Homo sapiens: one gene and its partners. The protein of the gene in region 3 purifies or fractionates together with the protein of the main gene of each other region. This does not show direct contact. Each region holds a gene or a part of one and is shown on either strand. Other genes may lie near its edges.

What was found.
Region 1: the proteins of C17orf75 (region 3) and FAM91A1 purify together in Homo sapiens (affinity purification with mass spectrometry; 3 studies listed by BioGRID and IntAct, with this or other methods). This does not show direct contact.
Region 2: the proteins of C17orf75 (region 3) and WDR11 purify together in Homo sapiens (affinity purification with mass spectrometry; 3 studies listed by BioGRID and IntAct, with this or other methods). This does not show direct contact.

The regions. Positions count from the first base shown.
Region 1 is NC_000008.11:123,806,432-123,810,182, forward strand, and holds part of FAM91A1 (protein FAM91A1), read left to right. Parts: intron 1-1,840; coding exon 1,841-1,945; intron 1,946-2,461; coding exon 2,462-2,585; intron 2,586-3,751. UniProt on the Homo sapiens protein: As component of the WDR11 complex acts together with TBC1D23 to facilitate the golgin-mediated capture of vesicles generated using AP-1.
Region 2 is NC_000010.11:120,849,649-120,853,399, forward strand, and holds the start of WDR11 (WD repeat-containing protein 11), read left to right. Parts: upstream 1-1,713; 5' UTR 1,714-1,772; coding exon 1,773-1,858; exon of another isoform or gene 1,859-1,879; intron 1,880-2,116; exon of another isoform or gene 2,117-2,353; intron 2,354-2,875; coding exon 2,876-2,987; intron 2,988-3,751. UniProt on the Homo sapiens protein: Involved in the Hedgehog (Hh) signaling pathway, is essential for normal ciliogenesis.
Region 3 is NC_000017.11:32,340,366-32,344,116, reverse strand, and holds the start of C17orf75 (protein Njmu-R1), read left to right. Parts: upstream 1-1,943; 5' UTR 1,944-1,977; coding exon 1,978-2,117; intron 2,118-2,163; exon of another isoform or gene 2,164-2,316; intron 2,317-2,832; coding exon 2,833-2,913; intron 2,914-3,751. UniProt on the Homo sapiens protein: As component of the WDR11 complex acts together with TBC1D23 to facilitate the golgin-mediated capture of vesicles generated using AP-1. May have a role in spermatogenesis.

The DNA of each region.
Region 1 (3,751 bases), on a different chromosome or scaffold from region 3:
CAGAATGGTTTGGGACTTTTGGGTGCTCTACTGTCATATCTGTGTTTATTAGGCTTTATTAGGTTAGCTTTATAGGGTGATGGTTTCAAAACTCAAGTCTCTTTATACAAGTGTTTCCAAAATTGACTTAATAGTTTTTCCCTTTCAACTTTTTCTGTCAAAAGGTACCATTGTCTTAATTATCTAGGTCTAAAATCTTACCTTTGTCTCATTCTTTCCTTTTTCCACTATGTTCAGTTAGTTTCCAAGTTCTGTGAATTAGGCTTTAGATAAGTCTCTCATGTCCATTTCTTCCCCTTTCTCTTCATTTTAAATTCTCTGTGACTGCTCTTCTTGTCTGGGTCTTGAACTTTAAACCTTAAACATGTGCTGTTGCAACCATTCCCTGCTTAGCCTTTCTGGCCTCTCCTTTCTATCTCCAGTCTGTCCTACATATTGACAATAGCTAATTTTCCTTAGATATCACTTACTTTTTTTTTTTTTAATTTGAAAATCCATTTTCAAATCACCTTCTCATGCTTACTAGTTGTTTCTGCTCTGGCATAATATTGGCATATATGTGGTTTGGGTTGCCGTGGTGCCAGTTCTTATCCATTGACTCTGGGAGATCTTTCATTATCTCCCATTGATTGACAGTATTCCATGAGCCTCTTAGTTTGAAATTCTGAGGAAATGTGATTGATTACTTGCCATCCAGTAGATTGGGTTGGCTCCCATTGAGATAGGTACTTACTCCTATCTCATTTGTCTTTGGCCAAATAGTTGACTGCCAAATATTGCAGGAGCATTTTCTAGAGAAGAGGGCTATGACTTAAGCAGTCATTTCAAAGCGTATCTACTACAGCTCTCCTTTTTTATGTCATTCATTCCACAAACATTTATGGAATACCTGCTTAGGTGCTGGAGCAATTTAATAAGACCAGGCCAGGCATGGCCAGGTACAGGCTCATGCCTGTAATTCCAGTCCTCTGGGAGGCTAAAGCAGGAGTATTGCTTGAGGCTAGCAGTTTGAGACCAGTCCGGGCAATAGAGCAAGACCCTGTCTCTACAAAAAAAAAAAAAAAAAAAAAAGAAACAAAAAAGACAATGTTGTTCCAAGGATGAAAACCCTAGAGAGGAGACGAGTGAGTCAGTATACAGTGTGGTGTTATTGACTATGATGGGGTCTGCATAAAGCGCTAACACAGCACAGAGAAGGCCTCTTAGAGAAGGTGAAGTTTGAGTTTTGAAAATTGAAGAGTTAGGTAGACAAAAGATAATGTGTTTTTGGAGGGTGGCAGCCTTTCAGGCAGAGGGGAATTAGAAAACAGTAGTTCATTGTGGCCAAAAGAAAGGATTTGTTGGACAGTAGTAGAAGATGAGAGTAGAGAAGTAGATAAGGTCTAAGGGATCTTGGAGGATCTTCTGTGCTGAAAGATAATGAGTCAGAAAAGAACTTTGAAGAGTAATAACATAATCAGACTATATATTTCCACAGGGGTGCAATTGGCTTCAGTAACTTGGGTCCTCCTTTTTGAATTTTGTTTCTTTAGGTCAGGGTTTCTCAATCTCAGCACTATGTGCAGTTTGAGCTGGCTAATTCTTTTCTGTGGAGGATTGTCCTGTGTATGGTCAGATGTTTAGCATTCATAGATACGAATAGCATCCCTGTCTTCATTCGTGTCCCTTGGGGATCAAAATTGCTCCCCTGTTTAAAACCACTTATTTAAGCCAAGGATTATGCATTTTCTTTCTGTCATCATTACTATTGTCTGAAGTCTTTTCCATGTTAGGACTGATTTATTGGCAGCTTCTGCTAACTGCTAGAATCCTAATATTGTGTATGCCCTTTAATTATAAGGAGAACCTGATTTGGCTTCTGGCTCAGATGTAAATGGGAGTACAGAGTCATTTGAAATGGTCATTGAGGAAGCAACTATAGATTCAGCAACAAAGCAAACCTCTGGTATGGTGCTAAAACTTTTTCCAATTTTATTAGACTAATTTCTGAGGTTTAACTTTTATGTTAAGGCATTTGCATGCCATTTGTCTATTCTTATTATTCATACGACTTTTAAATAAGAGTTTTCTAGGAAGCCTTTTTACATACTTAGAAAAATAATTCAAGTATTATAAAATTATGACTTGAAAATAATCTTATTCCTGTGGTAAATGTTTTGATTCATTCTCTCATCTTACAGATATCTTGCAATACTCTTTTTTGGGCAAATGACTACTTTGAACATTGGATGAAAGCTATGTACCTTCTCAGACACATGTTTATACCCTAAAAATGCCTATCCTGTTTAGAGATTAACTGACCCCCTTCAATTTCTTCCTCCCCTGCCAAGCCCACTGGTGGATATCAGTGGGGCAGGAGGAATCTATGAACTTCAGGTTAAGAAACCCTTGTCAGTTATATATAATATATACATAAGTAGATATATATGATAAAAAAATAAGTTTATGTATCCTTTCTTAGGTGCCACAACAGAAGCAGATTGGGTTCCTCTCGAGCTGTGCTTTGGAATTCCACTGTTCAGTTCCGAATTAAACCGGAAAGTTTGTAGGAAAATTGCTGCACATGGCCTTTGCAGAAAAGAGAGGTGAGGGTTTATATTCGCTGTCATATTTTCATATCAATTTTTAAGCTGTCAGCAAATAGTTACCATATCTTACTTTTATTCCACACATGAGCACAGTAATTGTTCTGTATATATTTGTTGATTGAATAGAGATCGCTAGTTTAAGGGTTTTGCTGTATTTTTCAAAATTAAATTTCACTAGATCAGAAATTAGTCACAGGCAAACATTTTGGGCACATGTTTTGATTATATTTATTTAGTAATCTAGGTGAGGTGAGGGTGTGGTGAAATGGGCATGCTGATATGGAGTATGAACCTAGATTTTAAAAAATGTATGTCTACAGAAAATTTCTCTGCATTTCTCTCACTCCTAACATACACACACTCATGTTATATTCTGTTAATAGTGATTGGTTTTTGTGGTGGAATTATGATGACTTTGCAAAATTTTCTTCACTTTCTACATTTTCTAAAATGGATATGTATTACTCCTTAAAGATGACATGTAGGTTTTATCTTATATACCAGCTCTGATCCATTGTGAGTAGCTGCTAAGAGGCAATGTTGTAAAGGTTCTGAGACAAACTGGGTTAGCAGGAAAGAGTATAATTGAATCTAATTGTCATGATAGGTGGCTTGGAGAGGTGAAATCCACAAGTCAAGATCTTCTTATTTTAGAAAATGAAGTTGGACAATAATTCATTTAAATGGTGTAATGTAGCTTTTATCAGAAAATGAAGAGTACTCAGTTGACAATTTCAACATCTATTCTCTAAAAACAAAGTAATATACATGAGTAAAAAATAGAAATACTATAGAACTTTAAAGATTACCACTATAATTTTTACTGACTTACATATTTGAAAAATATTTAGGTAGGTTGGTGTGTGTTTAATCTGTTATCAGGTTGTCTTTTGCAATTACTTTGGTTGTTTAAAGGTTGTGTCATAGTTGTCATTCCTCAGAGTGCCTAAATCTTCATTTGAAAAGTTTTCTTTCATTTAACATTTATGTTTATAGTAGTTGAATTTTTTTAAAACAATAACTTTGATTTTAGTTACACGATGTATTTTATTTCAAAATGGACTTTTAATGCATGACTACTCCCTATTATTAAAACAAGCAAAAATTTCATTGATGAGAAACACTGAAATTGTTTTTTAAGATGTTTTGTGATTGGCCAGGAT
Region 2 (3,751 bases), on a different chromosome or scaffold from region 3:
TTTACACTGTTTCTCCAAGCCATCACAGCTGATATCTCCTGGTGCTATCCCCAAACTGCCACTCTAAACTCTTGAAGTAAATAAATAATCTTTGCTGGCAGGACTATGCTGAATCTCCTTAGGCACTCTCTAATCAGATGTCCTATGTCCTCCCAATTCTTAGACCTTTTATACCTGTTTTTCTCCTTCTCTTATTCCATTTAGTTTCTCAATTCATCCAAAACCGTATCCAGGCCGTCACCAATCATTCTATACGACAAATGTTTCTTCTTACATCCCCACAATATCACCCCTTACCACAAGACCTCCCTTCAGCTTAATCTCTCCCACTGTAGGTTCCCACGCCACCCCTAATCCCACTTGAAGCAGCCCTGAGAAACATCACCCATTCTCTCTCCATACCACCCCCCAAAAATTTTCGCCGCCTCAACACTTCAACACTATTTTGTTTTGTCTTATTAATATAAGAAGGCAGGAATGTCACGCCTCTGAGCCCAGGCCAGGCCATCGCATCCCGTGACTTGCATGTATACATCCAGATGGCCTAAAGTAACTGAAGATCCACAAAAGAAGTACAAACAGCCTTAACTGATGACATTCAACCACTGTGATTTGTTCCTGCCCCACCCTAACTGATCAATGTACTTTGTAATCTCCCCCACCCTTAAGAAGGTTCTTTGTAATTCTCCCCACCCTTGAGAATGTACTTTGTGAGATCCACCCCTGCCCACCAGAGAACAACCCCCTTTGACTAATTTTCCATTACCTTCCCAAATCCTATAAAACAGCCCCACCCCTATCTCCCTTCGCTGACTCTTTTCGGACTTAGCCCACCTGCACCCATGTGAAATAAACAGCTTTATTGCTCACATAAAGCCTGTTTGGTGGTCTCTTCACACGGACGCGCATGAAACTAACAATGTATTGGGGAGAGAAACACACATCTGCAAATATCATTGCTGAAAAGAAATCATTGCATTAAGTGCTATAGTTAAAGCGTATAAACCCAACACTGAACACAAAGGAGGGAAGGACTGGGTCTGACCTGGAGAGCAGCAGAGGAGAAAGTGCGAAATGAAAGGTACCCAGCAACAGACAAAGGGTCACACTTGGCCCCAGACATAGTGCTTCTTCCTCAAGTGCGAAGGGAGTATTGCAAACACCAGATATGCAGTGTTATCTGTATTTGGAAATTGTTTATATTCAGGCCATTCACTTCATTCAGTCTGGCAATTTCATTCAATTAATCTCATTCATTTCTTAATTAATCTCATTCATTATTCTCTGTAAACTCCACGAGAGCGGAGACTTTGTGTCTTCTTCATCGGTAGATCCCCCATGCCTACTGGCACTAGTAGTTGCCCTAAATTCACTTATCAAAGGCAGCAAGAATAACTGGGACTCTTCTCTCTTGCTTTTCACGATTTCCAGCAGGGCACAAAGGCCTACAGTCCCCACCTGAAAAAAACAGACTTGACTGGAGGCAGCGCCTCTTCTTCCAAATACAGCCCCAGCTGACGCAGATTAGCACAACCGCCTAAGCGGCGGAACTCTGGAGAGTGCGGAACCTAGGATCCTAGGAAACTGAAGGCAACGGAACCTGGGGGCGATGGAATCCGGGAGCGGTGGAACCCGGAGCCTGTAGAACTTGAATCTAGAGGAACCTGACAGCGGCGCCGAGGGGGCCACCCGGACTCTGTTTGGAACGGAAGCACAGTGTCCGCCGCTTCCTGGTTGCGGGTCAGCGCCCAGGTCCTGGGCTGGCCGCCGGGATGTTGCCCTACACAGTGAACTTCAAGGTGTCGGCGCGCACCCTCACGGGGGCCCTCAACGCCCACAACAAGGCGGCGGTGGACTGGTGAGGACGCCGAGCTTCCAGGTCGCCAGGATCGGCCAGGAATGTGTGAGGGGGAAGGGGGAAGGACAAGAGGTTTCACCCCCTGGTTAGTTTGGCCTCGCTAAGGCAGGGAGCCGCCCTCACGCAATGAGCTTGCTTTCAGTTGGTGGATTTTTGTTGTTACAAAAGTGATAATAGCCCCGTGTGGGAAATTCCCCCATGCAAATACATTTCCCCTCTTTCTCGCGTATTTCTCTGCTGTTTTCTCTGCACCTCGCCCTTTTGCCGTTCCATTCCTCTCTCTTTTCCTCTCCTCCAGCTTCCAGGCTTCTCTCTCTCCACCATTAATTCCCTGTGCACTTTCTCTTTCCCATCCTGTCTTTTCTTTTTCGTTGTCTTGTATTCCTGTTGTCTTTCAACAATGTGCCAGACCCTGTGCTAGGCGCCTGTTCTTTCACCTGTCCTTTTCACCTCTTTTCGGGCTCCTCCTGTGTAGAACATTCCTGCCTTCAACAGGTCGTCTTTATTACTCTCTCCTTTCACTATAAATTACTACTGCAGCTCTGAAAACTACTCATTAGACAAATGTAAAGCAAAATTCTGTGGCTGTGGGATGTTGTTAGGAGGACTGAAACGTCTTGTGCAGTGTTTGTCGTTTTATTTAGTTGGAAGGACTAGGATTAGTCGCAGTATCCCCAGGCACATTGTGGATACTAAGGATTAGAAATCGGATAAGCGAAAGACGTATGCCTACAAGAACAGTCAGAGGGCACAAGTTCCTTTTTATGTCCTCGGGTCTCTATTTTCATATCTTTTAGAACTTTTTTTATCCGAATGAAAAGTGAATTTCAACAAGCATTTTAAGCTTAGCCAGATCTTTTATTTAAGTGGGATAATGATAAATACTGGCCTTTGGGTTTAAATGATTTTATTAATGGTGGTACATATGAATTAGACTTATCATTTATTTAGGCTTGGCAAGAAAGAAGTCGTCCTGCTTTGTTCTGTACTTAAACTTTAACATTACTGTTTTGCTAGGGGCTGGCAAGGTTTAATTGCTTATGGATGTCATTCACTTGTGGTAGTGATTGATTCCATTACTGCCCAAACTCTTCAAGTTTTAGAAAAGCATAAAGCTGATGTTGTAAAGGTAAGTAAAATCCCACTTTGACGCTAACATGTTGTCTAGTCTAAAGTTTAATACTGTGTATCACTAAGCTCTCATTAAGTCTTACGTGTAAGTGTTGAATAGCTTTTAAATATAACAACCTATTTGGGGTAGCCTAGAATTTTCATATATATGACTTAATGTCAATACAGGGTGAGTTATTAAATGCTAGTTGTTAGATCATTTTAAGGCAGATGAAAGTTCTACCATTTACAAGACCACTCAGTCATTCCTTAGTTTTGAGCACTTACCATATGCTATGGATATGGAGATGAAAGCCCTCAGATAATTCTCCATCTTATAAGGAAGACTCACAGCGTGATAGTGTGATAAGTGAGACTTGCGTAACACGCTGTGAGAAAACAGAGGAGCTGCATATTGCCTGGTTGTGAGGAGAGTCACAGAAGTCTACAGTTTCAAGACTAGTAGACAGTAGTTAGCCAAGTAAAAAATTGACAAGGAGCATTGCAGGGAAAAGCAAGAATATACACAGAAGTAAGTAGCGTGCCATAAAGATGGCTAAAGATGGGACACTTGTAGGAGTGATGAAATAAGAGGCAGCCAGAGAGATTCAGCTGTCTGTCCTGAAGTTTTGTAAGATTACGAAGGAGTTTGGATTTTTTTTTTTTTTAGACAGAATCTCACTCTGTCGCCCAGGCTGGAGTGCAGTGGCATGATCTCGGCTCACTGTAAGCTCCACATCCTGGGTTCACGCCATTCTCCTGCCTCAGCCTCCTGAGTAGCTG
Region 3 (3,751 bases):
CATTTTGCGGTTAAATGGGCTCTTTTTTCTCAATTCCTTGATATGGACCTGTGCTGGGGACTGGTCGGCTATTCAAGTACAATGCACCCAGTTTTGGTTCTGTGCCAGGATTAAACCCACGATATTTCACAATTTGTATATGAACCCCGATGAAGTGTTTCTAGGAGATGGCTGCCTTGTAACCTAGTTTTGCCAAATATCTACTATGAGTTTTTCTACCATCCTCATGACTGTGGTAACTCAACCTCTCCAGGAAGTTCTTCTGCTTAAAACTAAAATCAAGTATATCTCAAGAGACTACTGCCGATCTGAAATGCCTCTGTCATGTGTTGTCCGCAATCAGAATCCTCTTTTAAATGTAGTTGAAATGAGAGATAAGGAAACTGACAATGTTACTGAATGGGAGATAGAGGTGAGGATACCCATTGCGAATGAAGACATGGCAGTAACTTCTGCAATACAATCTTTTAAGAATCTGACTGCTATACTCACTTGTTCATCAAATGAGTACCTTTATTGCAAGAGAAGAAACTGTGCTATCCACTTTGATATGGAGAGGCAATTTGGAATCTCTGCCATAATTGCTTAGGACTGAGGATTTAATGTGCTATTTTGTGAAAATCTGAGAAGCAGGAAGGGGATTTAACGATCTCAACTGTTATCCATCTGAAAAACCTAACTTGTAATTTTAAATGAAATGGCAGGTTGCCTTCCACTATTCCTTTTTAAAAATAGGAACTGCCCCTGCTTTTAACTTTATGAAGTTTTATTTATGAATAAAGTTTGCACTACTAAAAATAAAAAAAAAAAACACAAAACACACGCATGCACACACACACGGTGGCTTAAAACAATGGAAATGTATTATTTCACAGTTCTGGAGGCTGGAAGTTGACATGGAGGTGCTGGTGGGGACATACTCTCTTGAAGCCTCTAGGGGAGAATCTGTTCCATGTCCTCTCCTAGCTTCTGGTGATGACCATCAATCCTTGACATTCCTTGGTTTGTAGATACATCACTCCAGTCTGCCTCCTCCTTCACGTGGCGCTATGGTTTGAGTGTTTGTCCACTCCCAAATTCATGTTGAAATGTAATTGCCATTGTAAGACTATTAAGAAGTGGGGCCTTTAAGAGCTAATTATAAATTGCCCAGTCTTTGGTATCCTTTTATAGCATCATAAAATGGACTGAGACAGAAAACTGGTACCAGAGAATGGGGTGTTGCAGAAACAAACACCTGAAAATGTGAATTGGTGTTAGAACTGGGTAATGGGCAGAGACTGGAAGGGTAGCTGGCATTACAGGCGTGAACCACCACACGTGGCTAATTTTTTTGTACTTTTAGTAGAGACACAGTTTCACCATGTTGCCCAGGCTGGTCTTGAACTTCTGACCTCAAGTGATCCGCCTGCGTCGGTCTCCCAAAGCACTGGAATTACAGGCGTGAGCCACCGTGCCCGGCCTTTTAGTTTTTACGTAGTCATTTTTTTAAACGTTTTCCTGTATGACTTCTAAGTGTTTTGTTATGTTTGGAAAGACCCTCTTCAAGAATTAACAAAATTATCCCATATTTTCACTTTAACAAAATTCATTTTAAATTCTTAACTTTTTGATCAAACGGGTGTCTGTGCGTGCTGGCACGCGCGCAAGGAGGCAGACGAGTAGCCTTATTCTTTTCCATGTGGCTAGGTAGTTGTGCCACCTTTATCACATAGAAAGTTTCCCAGATGTCTCAAAGGAAAATAAGTTCAAAATAAATGGTAAAAGCTTGTCAGTAAAGGCGAACTCAGTACGCCTGTCAGCCCCTGTGGGGAGAAGAGACTCCCTTTCCAGGCCAGTCCTTGCCTGCGAACCCGGGGAAACCAGCGGAACGCAGGTGTGCGAGGGCCGGGAGCCGGACGAGCCCTGATACCGACGGCTGCACGGGAGCAGGGGAGCGGTTTGGCGGAGACACAGGGCCGCTCAGAGGCCGCCGCAATGCTCCCCTCTTTGCAGGAGTCGATGGATGGAGATGAAAAGGAACTAGAGAGCAGCGAAGAGGGAGGCTCAGCCGAGGAGCGGAGACTCGAGCCGCCGTCCAGCAGCCACTACTGTCTTTACAGCTATCGCGGAAGCAGGTGCTGGCGCCCAGCTCGGCCTGCCAGCCCGCCCGCCCCTGCGGCCCCGCCCCCGGCCCGCCGCCCGGCCTTGCACCCCACCCCCGGCCCAGCGGCCCGGCCGCTCCTAAAAGCCATCTTCTCCTCTCCCAGCCAAGGTCTCTGGCCTGAAGGGCGCTCCTCGCCTCCCGCTGCTCTTCCTGGCCCCCGTCGTGGACTTGTATGCCTGGCCCAACCATGCCTGTGCCCTTCATCTGCCCCTATATCATCCCAGCCTCTTACTCTCGCGGCTGCCCTTTGTTTAGCGCAGTGCCCCGCATGCTCAATAATTTCAGTTCCCGTCCCCTCTCCTTTCTGTCATTATCTCCCCACTTCTCCCATTTCTGTCACACACACCCCCATCCCCACCCTCTGGTTTTCCTCTGTTCTTGATTCCTCTTTTTCCTCCTTCTGACTTTCCTGGAACCTTCTTGGCCTTGTCAAGTTTGGTTTTTAAAGGAGTTTCCTTGAACCTTCTGGGTATTTAGCCTTTCCTCCACCCGTTAAGTGGCCTGGAGAGAGAAGGGGCTCTTGTCAGCACTGCTGTATGGGTTTTCCTTGTCATGAGGATAGGCAGTGCACTTCCACCTTGCAGCATTTTTAGTTGACTCCTTGCCTTACCCTGCTTGCCAGGCCCCCATACTCCTCTTGGTTTAGAGCCCATAATTGATAGCACTATTGGTTTTGTGGCTTGTAGATTGGCACAGCAACGAGGGGACAGTGAGGACGGAAGCCCAAGTGGCACAAATGCAGAAACTCCCTCTGGTGATGATTTCAGGTAAAAAGAGCTTCAGCATAATTCATGCATGTGCTTTCATCTTCCCTGCATCTCTGGCCTGTACATGTCAGTGGATACTCTATTTCCACTGAGCTTTCCCTGAGTCAAACCGTCAATTCCTCCTATCCCCTAGGAACCTCATCCTGATTTCCTCATTGGCTGGTTCATTCAAGGCTGGGGCAAACAAATCCACATACTGATAGTGTGCTTGGTGATTAGCCAAAAAGAAATCCTTTTTTTTTCTTTTTCCTTTTAAATTGAGACAGGGTCTTGCTCTGCTGCCCAGGCTGGAGTGCAGTGGCATGACTTTGGCTCGCTGCAGCGTCAACCTCCCCGGCCTCAGGTGATCCTCTCACCTCAGCCTCCCCAGTAGCTGGGACTACTGACCACCACGCCTGGCTAATTTTTGTATTTCTGGTAGAGATGGGGTTTCACCATGTTGCCCAGGCTGGTCTTGAACTCCTGGACTCAAGTGATCCGCCCACTTCTGCCTCGCAAAGTGTTGGGATTACAGGCATGAGCCACCTTGCCCAGCCCTGAAAAATTTTTTTTTTTTTTTGAGACAGAGTCTCCCTCTGTTGCCCAGTCTGGAGTGCAGTGGTGCGATCTCAGCTCACTGCAAGCTCTGCCTCCCGGGTTCACGCCATTCTCCTGCCTCAGCCTCCCGAGTAGCTAGGACTACAGGCACCCACCACCACGCCCGGCTAATTTTTTTGTATTTTTTTTTAGTAGAGACGGGGTTTCACTGTGTTAGCCAGGATGATCTCTATCTCTTGACCTTGTGGTCCACCTGCCTCGGCCTCCCAAAGTGCTGAGATTACAGGCGTGAGCCACTGCT